Linked DNA regions of Homo sapiens. The protein of the gene in region 3 purifies or fractionates together with the protein of the main gene of each other region. This does not show direct contact. Each region holds a gene or a part of one and is shown on either strand. Other genes may lie near its edges.

Region 1 (3,414 bases), on a different chromosome or scaffold from region 3:
CAACTGCACTCTAGTCTGGTGACAGAGCGAGACTCTGTCTCAAAAAAAGGAAAGAAAGGGCATGGAAAGGAAGCTGCACAGCCTTTGAATTTTCCCAAATGGCCAGGGTAGGCAGCTCAAGGGTCCCGGGAAGCTGTGCAAACCACCAGAGGTGAGGGGAGGGGCCCAGCCTCCAGTCCAGCTCTCACCCTTTTGTGCCCACTGCCCTTTGCCAAGGGCTGCACCAAGACCAGCCCCACCTACCTGTGTGCTCTTTTCCAGGCCACTCTTTCTGAGCTTTTCCCCACTGACTTAAAACCTACCCAAATCACTCCTGCCTTCAAAGACCTGGAAAAGAGTGCTGGATGGTGAGACCCACAGGTGGAGGGATGGCTGAGAGGGTGGACTTGCTATGTGGCTGAGGCCAGGTGGACCAGAGGAAGTGGTAGGTGGACAGAGCCAGGTGCTGGCTGGCACCACCAGGCAGTGGCCGGTGCAGGTGCTATGAGGAGGCGGGGATGCCGAGGGGTCCTGACCTCTGTCCACTGCCACCCGGAGGGCCTGGAGGACAGAGTAAGGAGATCTTGTCCTTGGGGCCAATCCCCATGCTGATTTCCTGCCAGGCACTGAGGGCTCCTGGGGCCCAAGACCCACAGAAGGCTCAGAGCACACTCAAGCACTGGCCTCGAGACCAGAGCCACAATGGGGACGGAGCCTAAAATAAGCATTTTATTTAATAAAAAATGGCTTCTACATCTCAAATCATGTCCATAACTTACAATCTAAATGAAAGCCAGTTACATAAATAAGAAGGTCATTCTGGAAGAATCAAATTCTAGAAAACAAAACAAGAAAAAACAAGTTTCAAACGATGTTGATGTGCCACCGAATTGAAGAAACTGCCCAGGCGTCCCCTCTGGGTAGTGCTGCTGAGTAGCCAGGACTGCTTGTGGGGGTGAGGCCACCCCAGACTCGGAGGCCCCTGCTGTCCTCATAGCACCCCTTGACTGGGCTGAGCTGTCCTACATCAGAGCTCCTGCCCCCTGGCCCGGGCACCTTCTTACCTCACGGACCCCGCCCAGCTGCTCAGCCAGCCCCCTGGCACCCTCCCATGGGGGCTCTCCCTCCATCCCTCGGCACTCTGCTGCTCAGCCCTCCTAGCCCAGGCCACCTGTGCCCCTGCCTCAGTGGAAGGACACACAGCAGCATAACATCACCACCAAGCAGGCTGCAGGGGAGGGGTTTGCCTCTAGCACCCACTCCACTGCCAGAGAGCCCCACCTCTGCCTCCGCCCCACCCTATGCAGTCCTGTGATGCTCACACTCATCGTCTAAGGAGAGAGTGGGCCCCATTTTTGGATGAGGAAACAGGCTAAGCCTGATTAGGTGGCTGGCCCAAGGTCACTGCTGATGACCCTACAGAACTTGCCAAAAACCCCGAGGGTCTGACTCAGAGCCCCGCGCCCAAAATGGGCCCCATGTAGCCCAGGCCACCCTGAGAGGAACTGTGGGGTCCCTGAGGCCCCCTATGCTGTTGTCAGCAGAAACCCCCACTCCAGCCCCAACAGGAGAACAGGTGCTTGCCCCTGGAGGGATGGACAGATGGATGGATGGACGGACGGATGGGAGAGTGGGGAGGACCCCAGGCCTGGCCTGAGGGACCTCCTGCAACAGAGTCTTGGCAGGGCCCATCTGCCACAGCCGCAGCCTCCAGGCTAGGGCTCTGGGAGATGCAGGGCTGGATGTGGCATTCCCTGTGGGGAACCTGGGCTGAGAGATGGTTACAAAGACACAAGGCAGGCCTATTTCCTGGGAACCCTTAAGAAAGAGGTAGCACATGGGGCAGTGGGAGGTGTCCCGGGACAGTGACCTGCCAGTGAATCCCAATGGGGCCCTCAGGACAGCTGTGTGCTGGTGAAGGCCCCAGCAGAACCAGCGCTTTGGAATTCCCAGCTAAGCGGCTGCCAACAGCTTTGCTTTCTCATGAGCCAAGCACACAAAAGCCCGGATGGCTGCTCTGCGGGCTCTTGCCCAGCGCCTGACACGAAGGCTGTGGGACAGGAGGCTCCAGGTGGCCTTCGAGGGCAGCACCAGGGAGTCTGTGTGTGACATGTGTCACACGCGATGCCCAGCCCAAGTGTGGTCAGCAGAGGGTGAATACCAGCTCTTTCTGAAGGGATCGCAGGGGCTTAATGAAATTAGCTGCCTCAAAATGCCCCATTGTGGCCCTGCTGGCAGCCTAAGGACAGATGTGCTTGGGAAAAATGTGTTGGCTCCAATCTCAAGAACCCTGCTTCGGTCTGAAACCCAAGTAGAAGCCTCCGTTGAGGGAGGACAGAGCAGGGCATCAGGGTCGGGCTCTGAGGGGGCTGCTGCAGCCACCCCTGCAGAACCCCTGTAACTCACCCTAGGACAGGAGGGAAATAAGTGCGTCCAGAAACTTGCTCCGATCCTCAGCTTTCAGCTCAATTACTGAAGTAATGAAAGAAAAACAGCCGTGAGAAGGGAGGAGTGGGAACACAAGACAGGGCACAGAACTCCCCTCCGCTGCCTGCCCTCCACTGCATTCCAAAGTGCGCGGCTCCTCCCGGCCTGTGGTATTCTGCACTCAGTGGTTGTGTCTGTCTCACTGTACTTCATCTTCACAACTGCTGTCTGCACTGCTAGAGAGGTCAGGGTTGGGGCCTGCAGGGAGAACTCCCCCCCGGGAAGACAATAGAGGTGACACAGGGAAGGGCCCTACAGACCTGGACAAACACGGGCCTGCCCACCCCAGCTGGCATGAACCCCCGTCCCCAGAGTGGGTTGTGGAAGTCCTTGGGTGGGGCAGGTCACTTTTGGCCGCACTCTGGCCAATTCCTCGGCTTCAGTGTTCTCTTCCGCACAAGGGGACATGGTGCAAACTGCCCATATCTCACAGGGCCCTCAGGCTCAGCTGAGCACCCAGACCCTCACCACAAAGCAAAACCAGGCCCCAGGATGGGGCTGGCCTGGCCCTGGGAGCCATCTATGCTGCCAGCCACAGCCCCGAGAGCCCCAGACCCAGCCCACGCAGGTGGGCACTAGACATGGCCCACTCTGCACCCTCACCCCTGGCTCTCCACCCTCAGGGAAACCAAGCAGTTCCCAGCCCGAGTCCTCCCTGTATACTGAAGGCCAGATATTCTGCAGGCCAGTGGGTGTCCATCCACCTCTCCCACATCACAGGCACAAAAGAGTTAGCAGGGGCTGCTGTGCGGGGTGAACCAATGCCACACAGTGCCACAGCCATGGCTGGGTCTGGCTCAAGGAAGGCAGCTCTGAGATGGCTGACGCCACTTCAACAAAGGCTGGATCTCCCATGACAGTGTCTATCATTGTTGAGGAATCCGTGGTGATGAGGCAAGAAAATATCCTTTCTCAGAGGTGCAGGAAGTACTGAGGGTGTTATGAGCT
Region 2 (3,725 bases), on a different chromosome or scaffold from region 3:
TCAGGAATTTCTAGAATTTCATATTTTCTCCCTTGATCAATTTTCTCCCAAATTTCCCTAAAAGGCGCCCTAAAATGTGATAATCCTAAAAATTTGCTTCACTCCCTTTACATCTAATCCCATCTCCATAGGAAAATACATTTCTCCAACACTAAACTTTCTGGATAAGTGGGTATAACTCCTACAAAAGTCAACCTTCTACAAAATCTGAATGCAAACCACTATTTTTTCCTCCTGGTATTTTACAGCATCAATTTTATAAGTACTTGTTTTATAATTATTGTGATTATCAATTATGAAAAAGTAATTTTACAGCAACAAACCTATTTTTTGCATGATTTAGGTAGAAAACCTAAGCCAAAAGACTTCACAGACAAGGAAACTGAGGCTCAGGGAGGTAAAAGTGATTTGTATAATGTTAAATAGCCAGCTAATAGCAGATCAAGGCAACCTCTCAAGTTTTCTGACTGTCAGCTAAGTGGTACTTATACCATTTGGTGAATTCCTTTTTTTCCAGAGAAGGGTTTCTTACTTGTGTCTGGTAGGCAGGTCTTGGAATGCAACATAAAAATCCTTGGCAAGAGGGATCTCTTTACGGTCTTTGACGAATGTTTTCAAGGCCCGACACAGGTAAGGGTAAACTCTGAAAAACAAAAAAGTCAGCTGATACCTTAGAGGTTTACCAAGGCCTCCTTCCCTTTACATACCTACCAACAGCCGAGATTAAGGAATTTCATCTGGTTACAACTAAACCTTAGAACTTAACTGTGTAGGACACTTCTATTATCTACTCTAGGTTTAGGACCCTCTTTCAGTTCTCTCCTATCCCACCGGAACACTAAATATAAAATGTCATACCATACCTGATTATCATATAGCACATAAATAATCATACAGCACCCACACTGTTGGCCATTCCTCTGTCCAAGATGACTAGCTGAACAATCATCTTGTCAATATTATGCTCAATACTGTGAATTTTCTGTGGGCTGTTTATGACTTAGTAAGTCATGTGTCAAGTCAGTCAATTTCTTTGGTTTCATTCTGAGACAAGGTCTCACTCTGTCACCCAGACTGGAGTGCAGTGGCACGATCACAGCTCACTGCAGCCTCAATCTACCTAGGCTCAGGTGATCCTCCCATCTCAGCTTGCTGAGTAGCTGGCACTACAGGCATGCACCACCATGCCCAGCTAATTTTTGTGGGGTTTTTTTTGTAGAAATGGGATTTCACCATGTTGTCCAGGCTGGTCTCAAACTCCTGGGCTCAAGTGATCTATCCACCTCAGCCTCCCAAAGTGTTAGGATTACAGGTGTGAGCCACCACATCTGGCTGGTTTGATAAGAAATGGATGAGGACAGGAGAAGTATTTGTGCACTAATGTGAGAACAAATTGGCAAAAATGCTCCATTTGACTGGTGAGAGTGAAGTATGCATGTCCTTTTGATATGTTTCTAATACCTACTCCAGCTTAGTTTGTTTAAGAAGTGGGGTCTGAAACCCTCTAAAAAAGGCGCTACTCTCAGGAAAGAGAACTGCTGCCTGGCTTGTGCATGAGGCATGGCACAGCTGCTTCTACCACCAGGCTTGATTGTCTACCTCTCCCTTATTTGTCAGTGCTATAACTTCTACTGCTGCATGCTTTCACAATAAATCCTGTTGCTTACTTACCCCCTCCAATTATTCTTGATCATCAGCTATGACCAGAAACACAGACAAATCCTCCATCTCCTAATCTACTAAGAAATGAACGAGACTGTGCCTCCTTATCCCTGGGTTTTCATTTATCTTTCACAACTGTCCACAATTTATTTTAACCTGATTCTATTTCTATAGACTGTCACATTTATTTAATCCTAATACAAAGTCTTGTGTGCAAAGATGTTTCTTGCTATATATAACAAGTCAAAACAAAATAAAAGCCTTCTATTAAATATAATGTCTAACCATAGTATTTCTACCAAAAAACCACAATTGGAGCTATTAGTATGAGTTTAAGAAATTTTATATGAATTTGAGTAATTTCATACACAGCATACACACAAAGACATCAAAATGTGACAGAAGATCCTTACAAAACTCTGCACTTGCAGACTTGGAAGGCTCCTGGAACTCTGTTGTAGCAGATCTGCTAATGACGGTGGTGGATTACAAGTGTATAAGCAATTTAATTCTCCTTACTCTTCTCCATTTTCTACAATATATACCTATTACTTTTATAAGCGAAAACAAAATTAAACTTTAAGGGAACAAGAAGTACAACAACGTCAATGCTGTAAAGATATCCCCAGTACAAGAAAAGGACCCACACAAACACCTATTCCTGTGGGGAAAAAGGATCAATGGAATGACACAAAAGTAAGTAAGTACAGTTTTCCTCTTGGGAAAACTATATAGAAAGCAAAGATTTTCAACATTTGTATTTGAAAAAAAAAGTTCAGCTCTGGCCGGGCACGGTGGCTCACGCCTGTAATCCCAGCATTTTGGGAGGCCGAGGCGGGCGGATCACCTGAGATCAGGAGTTCGAGACCAGCCTGACCAACATGGTGACACCCCGTCTCTATTAAAAAATGTAAATAATTAGCCGGGCGTGATGGTGGGCGCCTGTAATCCCAGCTATTCGGGAGGCTGACGCAGAAGAATCGCTTGAACCCGGGAGGCAGAGGTTGCAGTGAGCCAAGATCGCGCCACTGCATTTCGGCCTAGGTGTGACAGAGCAAGACTCCGTCTCAAAAAACAAACAAACAAACAAACAAACAAAACACAACAACAAAAAAACGTTCGGCTCTACAAAGGCCTACATGAAGTTCAGAGCAGTACTAAAACGACCACTGGCAGTATCAAAGCGCCTCTTCTCAGTGGGAAATAACTGTGAAAGCTGACCTTCTGCTACACAAGTGAACACTTACAGTCCAAGAAGAGCTGGCTTCCCGGATTTCAACCCCTATTCAAAGTAAAGAAGATTAATATGCCCATACCTATAGAACTCCTCTTGAATGGTGGTGGAAAGTTGCTGGTTAAATTGTTCCAGGTCCACAAAACTCACAACCAATGTGTTTCTCTCAGGACGAATCAGTTCCTCTGCTAATTGCAAGTATTTAATTTCTCCATCGCTGCTCTGAAACCTGCAGGTACATTCGAGTCAACTAGATTAAGGACACAGGCAGTACAAAGAACCTGAATGATAATTCAGAACATTGGTTAAAGTCCAACAACTAGGCTCAGACAGGCCCATGTTTGGCAGTTCTGTAACTTGGGGCAAGTTACTCCTCCCTTCTGATATGGTTTGGCTGTGTCCCCACCCAAATCTCGACTTGAATTTCCACATGTTGTGGGAGGCACCTGGTGGGAGTTAATTGAAGCATGGGGACAAGTCTTTCCCCTGCTGTTCTCTGATAGTAAGTCTCACGAGATCTGATGGTTTTAAAAAGAGGAGTTCCTCTGCACAAGCTCTCTTTGCCTGATGCCATCCACGTAAGACATCAGTGACTTGCTCCTCCTTGCCTTCCACCATGATTGTGAGGTTTAACTGCTAACTAACAAAAAAACCCAACAACTAACTCTTCTTTTACTACTGTCATGTATAATTAAGATTGGAAAATGTTAAATCAAGAAATTCAGTCTCAAACCCAATGATTCCATTTCTGTAGGGAATTTGCAAACTAACAAATTAGTCAGGGATTTAAGAAGCAGAACAGAAATAAGAATACATGGAAATGAGGTGT
Region 3 (3,995 bases):
CTGTGGGTAGGGGTGAGGGGGTGGGGTGGGAGAGCCTTTCCTAACACTAACCTTTCTTATTTGTAACTACCCCCTCTACCTGGCAGGAAGAACTCCAATCAGGTGTTCTCACGATTTGGCCCTAACACATCTAACCTCAAAATCAGCATTCCTAAAATCTGCCTTATCCCCTTAATCTTATTTCTGTATCATTATTGTACATGTGCTTCCCAATACTTGGAATCTCCTCCACCAAAAGCAAAGTCTTTCCTGTAAATCCTCCCGAGATGCTATGTTCCCCACGATACTTTGCAAGTTTCACTCCAACTAGTCAGTAAGTTCCCAAAAAGCATTCTTTGAACTACCCTAGCACCTATGAGGGCCAGGCAATGTATCGGCCTTTCATGTGACCTTTTAACTATTAAAGTAACTCCTTAGAAAACATGTAAAAATCTTGTATTTACCAAAAGTGTAAACTGCAGAACTATATAGCAATGAAAACCTCCCATAAAGCCTGTAGATAGTTTTTAAGATAATTTTTACTTCTTTTAAAAAATTGACATTAATATTCAGTATATATGTACATCTCAAAACTTCACCCAGGCTGGGCGCGGTGGCTCACACCTGTAATCCCAGCACTTTGGGAGGCCGAGGGGGGCGGATTACCTGAGGTTAGGAGTTTGAGACCAGCCTGGCCAACATGGTGAAACCTCATCTCTACTAAAAGTACAAAAATTAGCCAAGCGTGGTGGCACACGCCTGTAGTCCCAGCTACTCGGGAGGCTAAGGCAGGAGAATTGCTTGAGCCCAGGAGGCAGAGGTTGCAGTGAGCCAAGACTGTGCCACTGCACTCCAGCCTGGCCAACAGAGTGAGACTCTGTGTCAAAAAAAACAAAACAAAACAAAACAAAAAACTTCAACTAGACTACTCTGGGCACACTGTCCATGGATTAGCCCTGCTTTGCAAGGAGCAGTAAAAAACAGAAACAAAACCTCCCAACTTAGTGAAAACAAGGCATTCAATGACAGACCAGCAGCAGAAACTGCTTATTACCTCCTAATCATTTTATGAAGAAATACCTATATAAAAACAAACACTAAAGAGAACAAATAGATTTAACTAAAGTGACAAGCATAATTATAAATAAATACCAGATTATCAGATTTTAAACAATAATCTATAACAGTTTTACTATCTAAGGATTTTCACTCCAAGAAGAAAAAATACATAGTAACGCCAAGCTTGCAGGACGATGACTTAACAGATACATTTTCTCTTAATGGAAACTTATCTAGCTTCAGTAATATTTCTGGATGTAGCATCAAGTTGCTGTTGCACATTTTTAAAAGACTGGTCCAGCAGTGTTTCCTCTTCATTTAAAGTATTGGCAATAGCATCATTACATGGATTGTCCAGAATGTCTTCGTTTAATCCATTTGACTCCTCCTTTTGATCCTCATCAGTATTAACCTCTTCAACCGTGTGTGCCCTGGGTGTATTCATTAACATATCTGAAAGAAATCATACCATTATTATTCATTATAAGTACCTGATCCAATCTTACCGCATGAGTACAAACCTCTTCAAAAGCTCAGTTTAGTAAAATGAAGTCTAAGATCACTTAATGTTAATTATGATCACTTTCTTCTAAATATATCTTTTTTTTTTTTTTTGAGATGGAGTCTCGCTCCATCACTTTGGCTGGAGTGCAATCGCACGATCTGGGCTCACTGCAACCTCCACCGGGTTCAAGTGATTCTCCTGCCTCAGCCTCCCGAGTAGCTGGGATTACAGGTACCCGCCACTACACCCGGCTAATTTTGGTATTTTTAGAAGAGACAGGGTTTCACTATGTTGGCCAGGCTGGTCTCGAACTCCTGACCTCAGGTGATCCACCCGCCTCAGGCTCCCAAAGTCCTGGGATTACAGGCGTGAGCTACCACGCCTAGCCAATAAGCCCATTTTTATACAATTAAGATCCATTTTAAATGCAAGAGAGGCCAGGCCCGATCCCAACAATGTGGGAGGATCATTGGAGCTCAGGAGTTCAGGACCAGCCTGGGCCACATAGTGAGACCCCATGTCAACAAAACATCAAAAAAAATAAAATAAAAAAAAAAATAATTAGCTGGCTATGGTGGCGAACCATGATCGTGCCACTGCACTCCAGCCTGGGTGACAAAGTGAGATCCTATAACCAAAAAAAAACAAAAAAAAAGCAAAATGGTTTTGAATGTTATTCAACTCACACTCTTGGATCATAGTCAAATGTAACTGTTCTTATTCAAAATCAAACTACTATTGGCCAGGCACAGTGGATCATGCCTGTAATCTCAGCACTTTGGGAGGCTGAGGCAGGCAGATCACTCAAGGTCAGGAGTTTGAAACCAGTCTGGCCAATATGGTGAAACCCTGCCTCTACAAAAAATACAAAAATTAGCCGGACATGGTGGAGCACGCCTGTAATCCCAGCTACTCGGGAGGCTGGGACAGGAGAATCGCTTGAACCTAGGAGGCGGAGGTTGCAGTGGGCCGAGATCAGCAACTGCACTCCAGCCTGGGCAATACAGTGAGGCCCCATCTAAAAAAACAAAACTGAAAACTACTAGAAAGAGGTCTAATAAAAACCAAGTGCGTTTAGGTTTTATGTCAGAGTGATCCATAAGAAACTTTAAAGTACTTATTTCCATTTGGACAAATTTTAAGTTGTATATGATAAACAGAGGTGAGCTTTAAATACCAACTGCCAGGTATACTTGATATTGACAGCAAAGAAGCCACTGCCATCAAGAATAATGCTATCTTCATGTAATGTTTCACATGGTACTAATAAAACATCCATTTATAAAGAAAAAGTAAATTGGCCAGGTGCGGTGGCTCACACCTGTAATCCCAGCACTTTAGGAGACCGAGGTGGGTGGATCACGAGGTTAGGGGATCGAGACCATCCTGGCTGATACGGTGAAACCCTGTCTCTACTAAAAATACAAAAAATTAGCCAGGCGTGGTGGCAGGCACCTGTAGTCCCAGCTACTCGGGAGGCTGAGGCACGAGAATGGCATGGACACGGGAGGCGGGGCTTGCAGTGAGCCGAGATCACGCCATTGCACTCCAGCCTGGGTGACAGAGCAAGACTCCGTCTCAAAAAAAAAAAAAAAAAAAAAAGGAAAAAGTAAATTCAGCTGGGCATGGTGGCTCACACCTGTAATCCCAGGACTTTGGGAGGCTGAGGCAGGCAGATCACTAGGTCAGGAGTTCAAGACCACCCTGGCCAACACAGTGAAATCCCTTCTCTACTAAAAATACAAAAATTAGCCAGGCATGGGGGCACGCACTTGTAGTCCTAGCTACTTGAGGAGGCTGAAGCAGGGGAACTGCTTGAACCCGGGAGGCAGAGGTTGCAGTGAGCCAAGATCACGCCACTGCACTCCAGCCTGAGCTACAGAGCAAGACTCCATCTCAAAAAAAAAAAAAAAAAAAAAAAAAAGCAAAAAGAAAAAGTAAATTCATCTTAACTGAAAAAAAAAGTAGCCAAAATAATTTTCACTTAAAAATGTTAATATATTGGGTGAAACTTCGTTTACAACATGGTATCTAGTTATTATAATTCTTTTTTTTTTTGTAGAGACGGGGACTCACTATGTTGCCCAGGCTGGTCTTGAACTCCCAGGCTCAAGTGATCTGCCCACCTCAGCCTCCCAAAGTGCTGGGATTACAGGCAAGAGACACTGTGCTGGGCCTATAATTCTTATTTTTCCATTTTGAAAGGAAAAACTGAATGGGAAATTAAGAAAGATATACGCAATCCTGCTTACTTCATTCAAAACCAACTTGCAATTCTTTCTAAATATAGTTTTAACAAATTTGGTTATATAGTTTCCAAACCCACAATGTGTGTTAAAAACAGCAAATTTAGGCCAGGTACACTGGCTCATACCTGCAATCCCAGCACTTTGGAAGCCCAATGCTGGAGGATTGCTTGAGACTAGAAGTTCAAGGCTGCAGTGAGTCAAGA

What was found.
Region 1: the proteins of TIPIN (region 3) and CDC45 purify together in Homo sapiens (affinity purification with mass spectrometry; one large-scale study listed by BioGRID and IntAct). This does not show direct contact.
Region 2: the proteins of TIPIN (region 3) and MCM6 purify together in Homo sapiens (co-immunoprecipitation; one study listed by IntAct). This does not show direct contact.

The regions. Positions count from the first base shown.
Region 1 is NC_000022.11:19,517,881-19,521,294, reverse strand, and holds the end of CDC45 (cell division control protein 45 homolog), read right to left. Parts: intron 2,452-3,414; coding exon 2,387-2,451; 3' UTR 2,386-2,386; intron 815-2,385; 3' UTR 687-814; downstream 1-686. UniProt on the Homo sapiens protein: Required for initiation of chromosomal DNA replication. Core component of CDC45-MCM-GINS (CMG) helicase, the molecular machine that unwinds template DNA during replication, and around which the replisome is built.
Region 2 is NC_000002.12:135,869,719-135,873,443, forward strand, and holds part of MCM6 (DNA replication licensing factor MCM6), read right to left. Parts: intron 3,126-3,725; coding exon 2,979-3,125; intron 644-2,978; coding exon 533-643; intron 1-532. UniProt on the Homo sapiens protein: Acts as a component of the MCM2-7 complex (MCM complex) which is the replicative helicase essential for 'once per cell cycle' DNA replication initiation and elongation in eukaryotic cells.
Region 3 is NC_000015.10:66,335,691-66,339,685, forward strand, and holds the end of TIPIN (TIMELESS-interacting protein), read right to left. Parts: intron 1,492-3,995; coding exon 1,268-1,491; 3' UTR 501-1,267; downstream 1-500.